Linked DNA regions of Homo sapiens: region 1 is linked to region 2. A link means that fine-mapping ties the variant in region 2 to the expression of a gene that starts in the linked region. Tissue or cell type: whole blood. Region 2 holds a variant in brackets; the other region holds the start of a gene. All regions are shown on one strand. Distances are from middle to middle.

Region 1 (8,111 bases), 52 kb after region 2:
GGGAGGCATGAATAATCCAAGCCTTGCTTAGCATATCACTAAGAAATAACCATAAAAATGGGCAAGCAGTAGCTCTAAGAGCTGCTCTGCGGAATAGCCATTCTTTTATTCCTTTACTTTCCTAATAAACTTGTTTTCAGTTTACAGACTAGCCCTGAATTCTTTATGGAGCGAGATCCAAGAACCCCGTCTTGGCGTCTGGATCCGGACCCCTTTCCTGTAACACTTGGAGGAGGGATGATTCTGATTTTCAGAAGACAAGGCTTGGGATAGAGCGGGATGCTCACTGGAGTCTTCCCAGACAGAGCTACAGGACAGCTCAGATTCCGCTGCCGGCTGCCCCCGTCCAAATCCTCAGTGCCTCAGTTTACCCATATCTGTGACGGTTAATACTGAATGTCAACTTGATTGGATTGAAGGATACAAAGTATTGATCCTGGGTGTGTCTGTGAGGGTGTTGCCAAAGGAGATTAACATTTGAGTCAGTGGACTGGAAGGGGCGGACCCACCCTCAATTTGGGTGGGCACCATCTAATCAGCTGCCGCTGTGGCTAGAATATAAGCAGGCAGAAAAATGTGAAAAGAGACACTGGCCTAGTCTTCTGGCCTACATCTTTCTCCCATGGTGGATGCTGGAACATCAGACTCCAAGTTCTTCAGTTTTGGAACCTGGACTGGCTCTCCTTGCTCCTCAGCCTGCAGACGGCCTGTTGTGGGACCTTGTGATCATATGAGTTAATACTTAATAAACTCCTCTCTCTATATATATTTCTATTGCATTAGTTCTGTCCCTCTAGAGAACCCTGACTAATACACCATCTGTAAAATGACATCAGGCACGACACTCCCGTCATAGGGCTGAGGGACAATCAACTAAGTTAATCCATGCCTAGTGCATAGGAAGTGCTGCCGTCAGTCAAAGAATTTAGCGCAGGACAGGGTATGGTGGCTGATGCCTGTAATCTCAAGATTTGGGGAGGCCAAGGCAGGAGGATCGTTTGAGCTGAGATGTTCAAGTCCAGCCTGGACAACATAGTGAGATCCCGTCTCTACAAAAAGTTTTAAAAACTAGTCAGGCACAGCGGCAAATGCCTGTAGTCCCAGCTACTCTGGAGGCTGAGGTGGGAGGTTTGTTCGAACCCCTGGGGTGAAGACTGCAGTGAGCTATGATGGAACCACCGCACTCCAGTCTAGGTGACACAGTGGGCCCCTCCCTCAAAAAAATTAAAACACATTAAAAAAAAGAAAATATTTTATGTTGTAAGTGCATTTAATACAACTACCCTACCAAACGCCATAGCTTAGCCTTACCTGCCTTCAGAGTGCTCAGAACACTTTTCATCAGCCAACGGATGGACAAATCATCTAGCACACAGTCAACTTTATAATGAGGTGTTGCATACCTCACATAATTTATTGAACATTGTACTGAAAGTGAAAAACAGAATGGCTGTATGGGGCCGGGCATGGTGGCTCACATTTATAATCCCAGCACTTTGGGAGGCCGGTGGATCACCAGAGGTCAAGATTCAAGACCAGCCTGGCCAACATGGTGAAACCCAGTCTCTACTAAAAATAGAAAAATTAGCTGGGTGTGGTGGTGGGCACCTATAATCCCAGCTACTTGAGATGCTGAGGCAGGAGAATTGCTTGAACGTAGGAGGTGGAGGTTGCAGTGAGCTCAGATTGTGTCACTGCACTCCAGCCTGGGCAACAGAATGAAACGACACGACATCTCAAAAAAAAAAAAGAAAAGTTGTATGGGTACTCAAAGTACAGTTTTCGTTTGTACTGAATGCATACCAATTTTACACCGTTGTAAAGTTGAAAAATCTTAAATTGAACCATCATGTCAAACCATGGTAAGTTGGGAACTGTCTGTATCCGCACTTTGTAGAAGTTGATTTGCCCAAGGGGATATGGTTAACCTTTGGCTCTTACTGTGAATGATACAAACTCCTGGAAGTACTTTTCTGGGGAGGTGGGTTTACTGTTGAACATCTCCCTGTAAACAGAAGCTAATGAATGCATGGCCACATTGTCCACTTACTAGGTGAGATCTGAAGACAGCACAGAATAATAAAAAATTCTCACTGCAGATCCTAGACTATGTCCACCAGGATCTATCCATCCCGACACCGCCTCCGCCCATAAACAACCAACTCCAATCTTAATGACGTCCATGTCTTTAAATAGGATAAACAGGAAATGCTGCCACAGGGACATCTGAATGATGTGTTTTAACTCCTAACAGAAATACTTCTCTCTCTTAAGATGCGCCCAGGTGTTCCCTTCTCTGAAATCGCCACATGAAAATGACCAAAGAAACTTACTCAACCGTTGTTCAAATCCTGTACTTTATGAGTTCATTGGAGTTTCTTAAAGAGGTCCTCGTACGGAACTGAAAAATCTAATCTTGGATCTGGGACAGCCAGCCTGCAAGTTTATATCGAAGTTTTTGATGTGAACAATTCAGGTGGTTTTAATTTGCAAGAATGAATGACAGTGTTTAGGAAAAGATTTAAAAATCTGAATAAATGCAACCCTTCCGGCAAACGAATCTCTGGTAATCTGCCCCACGGGATGAAGTAGTTTCAACTCTACTTTTACTGTATGGAAATGGTCAGAACTAATTTTTAAAATCAGAAAGAAATGACTGACATTCCACACACACCCAGTCATGCTTGAATCATGGAGTTAAATAGGTCATTTTTTAAACGCTTGGGACACATGGATCAAAACAGGAAAATATGGCGAATATCTAGATGGTATCAGCTAACATCCTGCCCTTCTGGATCTAATTCCCAGATTCCAAATGGGAGCAGCCCGTCTTCTCCCTCCCCTCTCAGCCACCCATCGCTCTTAGTCTCCTTTCTAATCCCATTGGGCAAATTATCCCCATTCACTTCATAGCAACTCCTTTGGAAAGAGTTTCTTAAAGCAAGAATAGAAAAATCCATGCCCAGGCAGATCTCCCTCAAAGCAAAATGCCTCTTACCTCGGGCGTGCATTAGAAAACACAGGAACGCAAGACAGGGAAGTCCCCACCAGCTCTCCATGGTTTGCTTCAGGATGCAAGAACCTCAGTGGACTCCCCAGCCAAGCGGATTGTGAGACCCGGCCTCTCCACCCTCCTGTTGTTGACTTCTGGTCTCCCAGCTTGGAAGGAAGGGAGGCGATGTCTTCAAGTGGAAAATATGAGCGGAACTGCCAGAAACAAATGGGCTCCAAGCTCAGATCCCAAACTCCACAGCTGAAAACCTGTGGGACCAGTGTAGGCACACTCAGTCGTGTGTCGGAGCCAGCCTCCCCGGGCTGCCCCAACCAATCTGCAGCAGCACAGACGATGGGGAAACTGGGGTGGTTCCCAAGCACCAATGGGCATCTCAGGCTTCTGGAAGCCGGCACACTTGCTTGGCAACTCTGCTCGCTGCGGGTGTGGGAGCTGTAGCAAGTTCAAAGTCACCAACCCAGAAACCAGAGAAGACACTGGCCGCCTGTAATCTTCCTCCTGCAGGACATGATTGTACAGTGATACCCAGTGTGGGGTTAATGTACACATCAGTGCAAAGACCTCAGTTGAAGTCTTGGCTTTTATACCTAACAAACTCAGTGACTTCCAAGAGGCATTTTTTATCCTCAGCCTTCAGTTGTCTTTGTAGGTGGCAGAACTAATATTTCAGCAGAGACGGTTGTTCAGGAAAAGGAGATATGTGGCTTTTTGTGTCTTTCATTTAAATCTGAGACATTTTATGTAACTACCAAAATTTACATCTTCTGTTTGAAATCTCCTTGGAGAAGAAACATGACTGGATAGCTGAGTTCGATGATGACTCCTGCTTTCACAATGGTTTTAATTATATTCTTCCCTGCAGATCTGTGAGTGTGTCTAATTTATCCATATACAACTCGTGGGTTAACCCTTACACTCTACCTACCATGAAGCAGTAGGCAAGCACTTAAAAAGTTACCATTTGCAAACAGCTTTGAAGTCCTCTGGTAAATAGATTAACTGCAGGAGAAAGGGGAAAATCAGTCTTAGTTATGAGGGCAGCTTCTAAATTCCCAGAGAAGCAGGATTCATGGCAAACAGACCCAAAAGGAGAAATAAACCTTGGACTTTTCTCTCTGCAAATTTGAGCATCTGGAGTGTTAAGTCTGTTCATGTTGTTGACCTGGTGTTTGGGAGTTGTCTTCTATGAAATATCTTCCTTTTTTTTTTTTGAGACAGAGTCTCACTCTGTTGCCCAGGCTGGAGTGCAGTGGTGTGATCTCAACTCACTACAACCTCCGCCTCTCAGGTTCAAGTGATTCTCCTGCCTCAGCCACCCGAGTAGCTAGGATTACAGGCACCCGACACCACACCCGGCTAATTTCTGTATTTTTAGTAGATACAGGGTTTCACTGCATTGGCCAGGCTGGTCTTGAACTCTTGACCTCAAGTGATCCACCTGCCTCGGCTTCCCAAAGTGCTGGGATTACAGGTGTGAGCCATCGCGCCTGGACTGCAACATCTTTATAAAGGTAAGTTACTTGGATGGATTAAGTTCCTGTGCACACAGGTGTGTGTGTGTGTGCACGTGTCTGTCTGTGTGTGTGTGCGTGTGTGCGTGTGCATGTGTGCGTGTGCATGTGTGTTCATGTGTGTGTGTGTGTGCATATGGGGGAAATGCTCTAAGGCAGTTAGCTTGTGCAGTCCTAAGCTCTGAGTGGCAGAGTCCAGGAAGCAGTTGATGCATTTAGAAAGATATTTCCTTCAAAGTCCCCTGACCCTAAAGAGGACTGACACCGTGACATCTGCTACAAAGTGGATGGACGTCAAAAACTGGATGCTGAGTTAGAGAAAACAGACACAGAAGAACGCATTGTGTAGGATTCCATTTCTCTGAAATGTCCAGAACAGGCAAATCTGCAGAGACAGAAAGCACATTGCCGGTTGCCAGGGGCTGGAAAGACGTGGGAATGGATATATTATGAGTTGCATTTTTTCTCCCGCAAACTTCATATATTGAAGCCCAACCCTTCAGTACTTCAGAATGTGACTTTCTTTGGAGATAAGATCTTTGCAGATGTATTACTTTGGTGCAAAAGTAATTGCAGTTTTCACCATTAATTTTTTTTTTTTTTTTGAGACACAGGCTTGCTCTGTCACCCAGGCTGGAATGCAGTGGCGTGATGTCAGCTCACTGCAACTTCTGCCTCCTGAGCTCAAGTGATTCTTCTGCCTCAGCCTCCTGAGTAGCTGGAATTACAGGCATGCACCACCACACCTGGTTAATTTTTGCATTTTTAGTAGAGACGGGGTTTCACCATGTTGGCCAGGCTGGTCTCGAACTCCTGACCTTGTGATCCGCCCACCTCGGCCTCTCGAAGTGCTGAGATTACAGGCGTGAGGTAGCGTGCCCAGCTCCTCGCCATTACTTTTGAAGGTGAAAACTGCAATTACTTTTGCACCAACCTAATCATTAGTTAAGATGAGGTCATACTGCAATATGATTGGTATTTTAAAAGAAGAGAGAAATCTGGACACTGACATGCACACAGGGAGAAGGCCTTGGGAACATGAAGTGGGAGATTGGGGTGATGCACCTACAAGCCAAGGGATATTGGCAGCAAACCACTGGACGCAATGGGAGGGGCATGGAATCCATTCTACCTCACAGCATCAGAAGAAATCAGCCCTGCTGGCTGGGCCCGGTGGCTCACGTCTGTAATCCCAGCACTTTGGGTGGCTGAGGTGAGCGGATCACTGGAGATTAGTAGTTCGAGACCAGCCTGGCCAACATGGTGAAATCCCGTTTCTACTAAAAATACAAAAATTAACTAGGCACGATGGTGCGCGCCTGTAATCCCAGCTACTTGGGAAGCTGAGGCAGGAGAATTGCTTGAACCCGGGAGGCAGAGGTTGCAGTGAGCCAAGATTGTGCCACCGCACTACAGACTGGGCAACAGAAACAGAGTGAGACTCAGAAAGAGAGAGAGAGCGAGAGAGAGAGAAGAAAGAGAAAGAAGAAAGAAAGGAAGAAAGAAAGAAAGAAGAAGGAGGAGGAGGAAAGGAAGGAAGGAAGGAAGGAAGGAGGGAAGGAAGGAAGGAAGGGAGGGAGGGAGGGAGGGAAAGGGGAAAGGTAAGGAAAGGAAGAAAGAGAAAGGAAGGAAGGAGGGAAGGCAGGAAGGGAGGGAGGGAGGGAGGGAGGGAGGGAGGGAGGGAGGGAGGGAAGGAGGGACGGAGGGAGGAATCCACCCTGTTTGCTCCTTGATTTCAGACCTCTATGCTCCAGAACTGTGACAGCTTAACTGTCTGTTTTTTAAGCCCCCTACCTAGTTTGAAGCATGTTTTTATGACAGCCCCAGGAAGCCAATATAAAAAACAGCTGCTAATGGGATTTCTTTTGGGGGCAGTGAAAATATCTTGGAACTAGGTAGAAGTGGTGGCCACAAAACACTGTGAAAGCAGCAAGCAACCTGAATTGTTCACTTTAAAATGGTGAATTCTCCTGTCATCCCAGCACTTTGGGAGGCTGAGGCGGGTGGATCACCTAAGGTCAGGAGTTCAAGACCAGCCTGGCCAACATGATGCAACCCATCTCTACTAAAAATACAAAAATTAGCCAGATGTGGTGGTGACTGCCTGTAATCCCAACTACTTGGCAGGCTGAGGCACGAGAATTGCCTGAACCCGGTAAGCAGAGGTTGCAGTGAGATGAGATCACGCCAGCCTGGGTGACAGAGACTCCGGGTCAAAAAAAAAAAAAAGGTTAATTCTATGATTTGTGAATTTCACCTTAATAAAAAAAATGTTTCCCAAAAGGTAGTGAGGAGTTAGGTTAAATGGTTAAGTTCAGGAAATCCTCTCAGATGTAGTGAAGGTGCAAAATAATTGCTACGATTTCCAGCATGCCTAACGTGCCAGTGTTGTAAGTATTTTACATGCTTCTTGAGGCAAGAGTAGACAAGCTTTTCTGCAGAAGGTCAGATAGTAAAGGCATTTATCTTTGCAAACCATATGGATTCTGCTGCAATATGTAACCAATGTCTGTGCGCCAAGTGGACTTTATGAACATAAAAACTTGAGTGTCACATAATTTTCATGCATCACAAAATATTATTGTTCTTTGGAGTTTTGAAAATTATTCAGACATGTAAAAACCATTCTTGGCTGGGCACCGTGGCTCATGTCTGTAATCCCAGGACTTTGAGAGCCAGAGGCAGGCAGATCACTTGAGGCCAGGAGTTCGAGACCAACCTGGCCAACATGGTGAAACCCTGTCTCTACTGAAAATACAAAAAGTAGCCGGGCGTAGTGGTGCATGCCTGTAGTCCCAGCTGCTCAGGTGGCTGAGGCAGGAGAATCGCTTGAACCCAGGGGCGGAGGTTGCAGTGAGCCGAGATCATGCCACTGGACTCCAGCCTGGGCGACGGAGTAAGACGCCATCTCAAAACAACGATAACGACAATAATACAAAAAAATTCTTACCTCGAAAGCTGTACAAAAACACACCGTGGGCAGATTTGGCTCCCGGGTTCTAGTTTGCCGACATCAAAGCTGTGTGTTGCAGGAGTCCTGGGAAACCCAGTTTTATCACCTCTGCTTCACTAAAGTATGGTCAGGGCAGGCCGTGTGCCCAGCGGTAATACACGCAGGCTCCAGATCAGAGCACGTTAGGGGAAAAGCACTCTACTTCACCGCTCGAAGCCTCAGCTGATCAAATGCTGGGAGCTCACAGACATGGCAGAATTTACAAAGCCGACTTTAATTTTCACATCCTCGATAACCTTAAAAAGCGTGAATGCATCTCCTTTTCAATGTTCATGGGATGCTCCTGAAAATTCACAACTGCACTACAAAGAAAGCTTTAGCAAACTGTTTTTTTAAAGTAGAAACAAGACAGAAGACATTCTGTTGCTGTAAAATTGGAAATAAGAATATTCTAGGCCACGCATGATGGCTCACACCTGCGATCCCAGCACTTTAGGAGGCCGAGGCGGATGGATCACCTGAGGTCAGGAGTTTGAGACCAGCCTGGCCAACATGGTGAAACCACATTTCTACTACAAATACAAAAATTAGCCGGGTGTGGTGGCATGTGCCTGTAATCCCAGCTACTTGGGAG
Region 2 (8,000 bases):
ACACACAAATATGCACACACAAACACATTCATGTGTGTGTGTGCATGCCTGTACACACGCATGTATACACACAATCCACATGCACAGATGCACATGATATATTCGTGCAGTATGCACATACCACACGAGCACACCCAGATGCACACTCCTGCATCTATCCACATGCACACATGTGCTTGCACACCCCTAAATGTATGCATGTGAATGGACACACATGGGAAACATGCAATGCACATGCAACCCAAGCACAAGCATGCACACATGCAAAATCCACAAGTACATGCCAACACATCTGTGCACATACACAAACATGCATGTGCTCAATCCACATGTGTGCACAGACACTTGCACACATGCACATGAAATCCACATGCACTTATGCACATGATTACAAAATCCACATGCACATGTACACATGCATGCACACACAATACACACAAGCATACCTGTGTGTGAACACATATGTATACACACACACGTGCACACACATGCACCCAGTAACACCTGTAAGTGGGCCATAGTTCCTTTGAAGAAATGAAGTCCTCAGGGCATGCACAACATCTCCCCCCAGCATGGATGACCAAGGAAAATGCAAATGAGAGACTCGAACGGCCAGTTGGTTGTGCACTGGATGAAAGCATCAGCTTCCCATCAGTGCAGACAGTGTGTTAGTTATTTGCAAATGGACAGTTTTGCCTCACATATTCTGTAAGACATAATTCCTTTACCATAAGTATTTCCATAACGAGAGTTGAGTCTATAGCCCCCTCTTCCTGCAGGATAGAAAAGAGACCATGAAATGCTAGATATTGCTCAGGAAGTCTGCATGATCTTACAGAAGCAAGCAGGTCAGCAAACCTGAAGCAAGATGCTCTTAAAAGCTGCAGAGATTCCAATGCTCTCCCAAGGCCAGGGAAGGTGCACAGGCGCCATCTGGCCCCTGTTTACTGTTTACACCGGTGGCTGAAGGTGCATTAGATGTACATCCCTGAGGGTCTGGAGGCCTGACATAGATGGGCAAAGGTGTTTTCTTCGGCATAAAAAAAAATGCCAGCAAATGTTGGTTAAAAAAAAAGAGAATAGGATGAAAACGCAGGCCACAAATAGTAATTTATTTAAAATTTTAAAAAAAAAGAGTTCCTCCAGGTTGGGTGTGGTGGCTCCCACCTGTAATCCTACCACTTTGGGAGGCTAAGGCGGTAAGACCACTTGAGCTCATTTGGAGCCCAGCCTGAGAAACATAGTGAGACCCCGTTTCTACTTAAAAAAAAAAAATAGCTGGGTGTGGTGATGTGCACCTGTAGTCTCAGCTACTACTTGGGAGACGACTGAGGCAAAAGATTGCTTGAGCCCAGGAGGTGGAGGCTGCAATGATCTATGATCACGTCCCTGCACTCCAGGCTGGGCTACAGAGTGAGATTTTGTCTCAGAAAAACAGCAAAAAAAGTTTTTCTATATTTTTCTAATGTGTTAAGAGCAATTTTTAAAAATACAGATTTGAGATTTTTAAAACTAATGCTTTGTGCTGATTTTGAAGTGGAATGACTTATGTGGATAGTGGGTTCTATGGGCTGAACTATATCCCCCTCCAAATTCACAGGTCGCAGTCCTAACCCCCAGGGCATCAGACTGTGACTGTATTTGAACACAACGTCCTTAGAGAGGTGATTAAAATAAAACGAGATCACTAGGGTGGGCCCTAATCCAATAGGACTACAGACCTTATAAGAAGAGGAGATGAGGACACAGACACACACAGAGGGACGACCCTGTGAGGACACAGGGAGAAGATGGTGTCTACAAGCCAAGGAGGGAGGCCTCAGGAGGAACCAGCCCTGCTCACACCTTGATCTTGGACCTCCAGCCTCTAGGACGGTGAGAGAATCAATGTCTGCTGTTTCTAAGCCACCCAGTCTATAGTATTCTGTGATAGCAGCCTGAAATGGACTAAGACACCTCATAAGGAGAGGAGATTGGAACACAGACACACACAGAGGGACGACCCTGTGAGGACACAGGGAGATGATGATGTCGACGAGCCAAGGAGAGAGGCTTCAGGAGGAACCAGCCCTGCTCACACCTTGATCTCAGACTTCCAGCCTCCAGGACTGTGGGAGAAGAAATCCCTTTTGCTTCAGCCCTCCTGACTCTTGTAATTTACAATGGCAGCCTTAGCAGACAAGGGAAACTTGTCCCCCAGTATTTAAAAACGACGAGCGCAACATTTTCTCCCCAGTCTCCGCAGGGAGGCCAGACTTTGGGCTTCCCTCCGCGGCCAGCCACGGTCAGCCCTCACCCCTCAGTGCTCTGCATGAAGCCAGAACAAGCCTAACACGCTCTGCCTCCTTTGGGGATTCGGGGAGAAGCCGCGTGACTCATCCCATGGCGGCGGCTTGCATCCCAGCCGGCACCTCCATGCTGATGCTAATCCGAGCGCTGACTCACAGCCTCGCTCTGCCGGGGCTGGAGAGCAGGGGTCCAGGCAGGAAGGGGAGCACAGGCATCCTCGAAAACAAGCGTCATGCTCCCAAAACTGGGCTGTGCCTCATGCACGCCTGATGTTCTTGGCCCAGCTGCTGCTTCCACCGGGCCCTGGCCCTGCCAAGGACCACAGGGCTACCTGCTATTTTCTGGCAGTTTTGCCCCAGGGATACAGCAGCCCCCTGACCAGTAAGCTTTGATCCATTCGGGAGCCAGATAATGGTCCCCCAAAAATGGCACAGCGCAGACCTCCCGAGACTAACTTCACAGGAAAACAGGAAACGATCAGGGCTCTCAGGGGAGCCGCTTGCTGAATCACTTCTTTCTACCTGATGAGTATGCCAGAGAACAAAAGAACGTGTCCCGAATAGCTCCTTACAGAGAGCAGTTTCAGAGAATCGTGCATGGGGTGAAAAGGCTCATTCGTAGGCTGTAGGGGTGTGGGGACGGCTCGCTTTATATAACACGCTCCAAGGTGGGCCGGATGTGGTGGTGCAGGCCTGTAATCCCAGCACTTATGGAGGCCAAGGTAGGAGGATCGCTTGAGCCCAGTTCAAGACCAGCCTGGGCAACGTGGCGAAACCACCTTTGCAAAAATTGTAACTGAGGAAATGATGACAGTGAAAGAGGCCAGACCTAACCGACTCTATCTTGCTTCTAACCCTTAAGCTGTCCTTGTTCATTCCTGGGCATAGGCCCAACTAACTTTGGGAAGGAATTCAGTTCATGGTTTCACTCTGAAACAAAACTGATCACAGCCTTTTCCTGAAAACACCTCCTTCTTGCCTGGGGACCAGTTGGACTTTGTAGGACTAACAAATTAGCTACAAGATTAAAAATTATAGTTTAGGGCTGGGCGCAGTGGCTCAAGCCTATAATCCCAGCACTTTGGGAGGCCGATGAGGGTGGATCGCCTCAGGTCAGGAGTTCGAGACCGGCCGGAACAATATGGTGAAACCCCGTCTCTGGTAAAAATATGAAAATTAGCCGGGCATGGTGACATGTGCCCGTAGTCCCAGTTACTGGGGAGGCTGAGGCAGGAGAATTGCTTGAACCAGGGAGGCAGAGGATGCAGTGAGCCGAGATCACACCACTGCACTCAAGCCTGGGCAACAGAGTGATACTCTGTCTCGAAAAAAACAAAAAAAGAAGAAAAGAAAAGAAAAATTATGGTTTAGGGGTCGTGCAGCCTCTGGCTCAAGAGTCTGAACCTCTGCAAATTGCTCCTGGGGGTAACATCACTATTGTAAAACGTAAGCGCGGTGTTTGAGACATTTTGCAGCCTCTGCACTGGATGGATCAGCTGACACCAGCCAGCCCGGTAATCTGGCTCAACCAGTTCCGCCATCCACCCAGGAACAGAAAACAGCAAGAAAACCTCACTTCACCCCCCTATGGTTCCCTCTGCAACCTGACCAATCAGCCCTCCCCACTTCCCAAGCCCCTACCCGCCAAATTATCTTTAAAAACTCTGGACCCTGAATGCCTGGGGAGACTGATTTGAGTAATAATAAAACTCTGGTCTCGGGCACAGCTGGCTCTGCATGAATTACTCTTTCTCCATTACAATTCCTCTGTCTTGATAAATCGGCCCTGTTTAGGCAGGGGGCAAGGTAAACCCATTGGGCAGTTACAACGGTGAGACCCCATCTCTACAAAAAATTTCTTAAAAATTTAGCTGGGTATGATGGTGTGTGCCTGTAGCCCCAGCTCCTCGGGAGGCTGAGGTGGGAGGATCGCTTGAGCCCAGGAGTTTGAGGCTGCAGTGAGCTATGATTGCACCACTGCACTCCAGCCTGGGCAACAGAGTGAGACTCTGTCTCTAAATAAATAAATAATAAAACAATAAAAAACTACTCCCAGTGGCTTTCTGTAAAAATATTAAATTTGGTCTTTGCCTGACATTTTCAGTTAAATTGAAACCGCCTTTGCAAAAATTATAACAGTGAGAAAATTACGACAGTGAAAGAGATCTGACCTAACCGACTGCATCGTGCCTGTAGCCCTCGAACAGCCCTAGTTCATTCCTGAACACAGACTCAGATAACCATAGGAGGAAGTTCCAGCTTAACATTCAAACAAAGATAACAGCCCTTTTCTGAAACAAACTCCCTTCTTCCCCGGGGATCAGACTGCCTTTGAAAGACTAACAAATTAGTCACAAGATTAGAAATTATATTAATAGGTTAGGAGCCATGCAGCCGGAGGCCACAAGATTCCAAACCTCTTCAGTTGCTCCTAGGGATGGCATCACTATTGTAAAACCTAAGGTTGAAGTTGAGACATTTTTTAAACCCTTCATTGAGATGCACCAGCCGGCGCCACCCAGAC[T/C]GGTAATGCGGCTCAGCGAGCTCTGCCGTCCCACACAAGAACAGAAGACAACAAAAAGAACCCATGTCCGTCCTCTGTCATTCCACCTCCAACCAACCACTCAGCACTCCCCACGCCCGGGTCTCCTACCAGCCAAATTACACGTTAAAAAGCCCAGTGTCCAAATTTTGGGGGAAGCTGATTTGAGTCATAAAACTCCAGTCTTGGCTAGGTGCAGTGGCTCATGCCCGTAATCCCAGCTCTTTGGGAGGCTGAGGTCGGAGAAACACTTGAGGCCAGGAGTTGAAGACCAGCCTGAGCAATATAGTGAGACCCCATCTCTACAAAAATTTTTTAAAAATTAGGCAGGTGTGGTGGCATACACCTGTGGTCCTAGCTACACAGGAGGCTGAGGCGGGAGGATCGCTTGAGCCCAAGAGGTTGAGGCTGCAGTGAGCTATGATTTCACCACTGCAGTCCAGCCTGGGTAACAAAATGAAACCCTGTTTAAAGAAAAAAAAGCAAAACCTCCAGTTGATATAGGAGTTAAGAAGGAATTAGTTAATTACTTAGGCACATAGCAAGGGTATGGGAGTCCTTGGTAAGGCTTTTCTTTTTAATGAAAAGCAGCCCCAAATCATTTTCTAACAAAGAGCAGCCTGTAAAGTTGAGCTGTGGCCGGGCGCGGTGGCTCACGCCTGTAATCCCAGCACTTTGGGAGGCCGAGGCGGGCGGATCACGAGGTCAGGAGATCGAGATCATCCTGGCTAACACGGTGAAACCCCGTCTCTACTAAAAATAGAAAAAATTGCCAGGCGTGGTGGCGGGCGCCTGTAGTCCCAGCTACTCGGGAGGCTGAGGCAGGAGAATGGCGTGAACCCGGGAGGCGGAGCTTGCAGTGAGCCGAGATGACGCCACTGCACTCCAGCCTGGGCGACAGAGCGAGACTCCGTCTCAAAAAAAAATAAAAAATAAAAAATAAAGTTGAGCTGCAGACATAGACAAGCCAGCTAGGAGCTTACATGGGTGAATGCCGGCAGGAACTAGGGCCTAGACACGTTCAAGATGGCAGCTTCATCTTCCCTCCTCTTTGTCAGCCCCATGTACAGTAAGTAGCAGACAAGATGGCACTGACCAACTGGAAAGCCCATTTACATAACAAAATTAGGGTGGGGCCACCAGCCTTCCCCACGCACTATGTAGAAGTCATACCTGATCGAACCAGTCTGTAAGCCCTATGTAAATCAGACACCACCTCCTCCAGCCTGCCTACAAAAGCTGCTGCGGTCCACAACCTCCCAACTTTTTCAGATGCTTCTCTTTCTCTCTCTCTCTTTCTCTCTCTCCCTCTCTCTCTTGCAAGGAGCTGCTCTCCTCTCTCCTTTCTTCTATTAAACTTTCAACTCCTTAACCCAACCACATGTGTCTGTGTCCTGAATTCTTTCTCAGCGTGCAACAATGAACCCCAGGTATGTACCCCAGACAGCATAGCTGCTTCACATGCTCCCGTTCAGTCAGCTCTGTGTGAATTAAACTCTTTCTCTATTGCGATTCCCGTCTTAATAAATCAGGTCTACCTAGGTAGTAGGTAAGGGGAACCCCTTAGCTAGTTCCAGAAAGATGGTGGAAGGAACTCATCTCATAGTACGTTGAGTTGAAGGTGGTCAATTCTTTTTTAGTGTCCTTTTTTTTTTTTTTTTTTTTTTTGAGACAGGGTCTCACTCCATGGCCCAGGCTGGAAGGTAGTGGTGCTATCACGGTTCACTGCAGCCTCAAACTTCCAGGGTCACTTACACCTCCCGAGTAGCTGGGACCACAGGCGCACACTTCCATGCCCAGCTAATTTTTGTATTTTCTTGTAGAGACAGGGTTTCACTATTTTGCCCAGGCTGGTCTTGAACTCCTGAACTCAAGGGATCCACCCACCTTGGCCTCCTAAAGTGCTGGGATTACAGGCGTGGGCCACCATGCCCGGCCAAAAGTAGACAGTTCTTGACCCCAGGTAATGAGCACTTTGTCATGAGCCCCCTCCCATCCTGAAGCTTGTCTGTGTCATAGGGAGTGAGTTCTGAGGATGGGCTACCTATAGGGCCACAGCTATTGCTCCTTTGAAGTGGACAGTCGAGCGTCATGCATTGCTTTCATTTTGTTAAATGGATCTGATGACAACACTCGCTTCCGAGGTAACGAAGATGACGGACATCAAAATATTTTACTCCAAAATATATTGCTTTGCCTTATTTTGAAATTGCCGCTCCAGGGCCAGCAGACTGAGGTGGGGAAATTGGCATCTGTAGAGGATCTTTGCTGTTGCAGCCAGGCCTTCCCTTTCTAAGCTTTTCCTGGATGTAGGAGAGAGAAACGGAGACTCTGACACCTTTACAGGTCTGAAAAGAAACATTTACCATGGTCGTCTCTGAGCGCTGCTACCTGGGAACCTTCATCTGCATAACAAGGACCCCCTTGCTAAGCAGGCCTCTTCCTGTCTCCCTCTCATCACCTGGCTTGCCACCCGTTAAACCTGCTTTACCAACGTCACCTATTTGGGGCCATGCTCTGAGCCCACATTCTTCCTGCAAAGAACAACAAATAGCAAACTCAAATAGTAAAGACATGGAATCAGCCTAGGTTCCCATCAATGGTAGACTGGATAAGGGAAATGTGGCCCATATACAATGTGGCCCATATACACAGCCATAAAAAAGAACAAGATCATGTCCTTTGCAGCAACATGGATCGAGCTGGTGGCCATTCTCCTGAGCAAACTAATGCAGGAACAGAAAACCAAATACCATGTGTTCTCATTTACAAGTGGGAGCTAAACACGGAGTACGCATTGTGAAAGGAAATTAAATTTTGTGATCCTGAACTCATTTAGTCAAAGGGAAAAGTCAAGCTGGGAACTGGGTCACACAAACCTGCCTCCCCCTTTTGGTTCCTAAATAAAATGGCTACAAGATGAAAAGCTACACGTCTCCCCCATATTTTGCCCACAAGGAAAATCCTAGTGAGCTGTGAAGATTTCACCATGACAATATGCAAATCGACAGCTTTGCAGTCACCCCCGCCCAGCAGACACAAATCATATGTGATTGCTCCCCTGCCCCATTTTGTCCAGATTATCTTATGCAACATGCAGATTCCCTGCATTTTCCCTCTGCCCCATTTGTCTATGCCATCTTATGTAAAAAAACACAGATTCACTGAGC

The links. PIP is the estimated chance that this variant, and not a neighbour inherited with it, causes the effect.
Region 1: it holds the start of XG, and the variant in region 2 is fine-mapped to the expression of XG in whole blood (TOPMed, PIP 0.97).

The regions. Positions count from the first base shown.
Region 1 is chrX:2,747,223-2,755,333 of GRCh38, reverse strand. It overlaps XG (Xg glycoprotein (Xg blood group)), which reads right to left and starts at 3,294. Exons shown (of 11, transcript NM_001141919.2): 1 at 2,999-3,294. The coding sequence starts at 3,059.
Region 2 is chrX:2,799,474-2,807,473 of GRCh38, reverse strand. It overlaps XG (Xg glycoprotein (Xg blood group)), which reads right to left. Exons shown (of 11, transcript NM_001141919.2): 8 at 729-773. Among named protein-coding and RNA genes, the nearest start is that of GYG2, 25 kb to the left of the region's middle. RefSeq lists enhancers at 2,297-2,962, 1,871-3,070, 2,963-3,627, 3,628-4,293, 6,275-7,216 and 1 more. The variant T/C (reference allele first, on the strand shown) is at 4,813.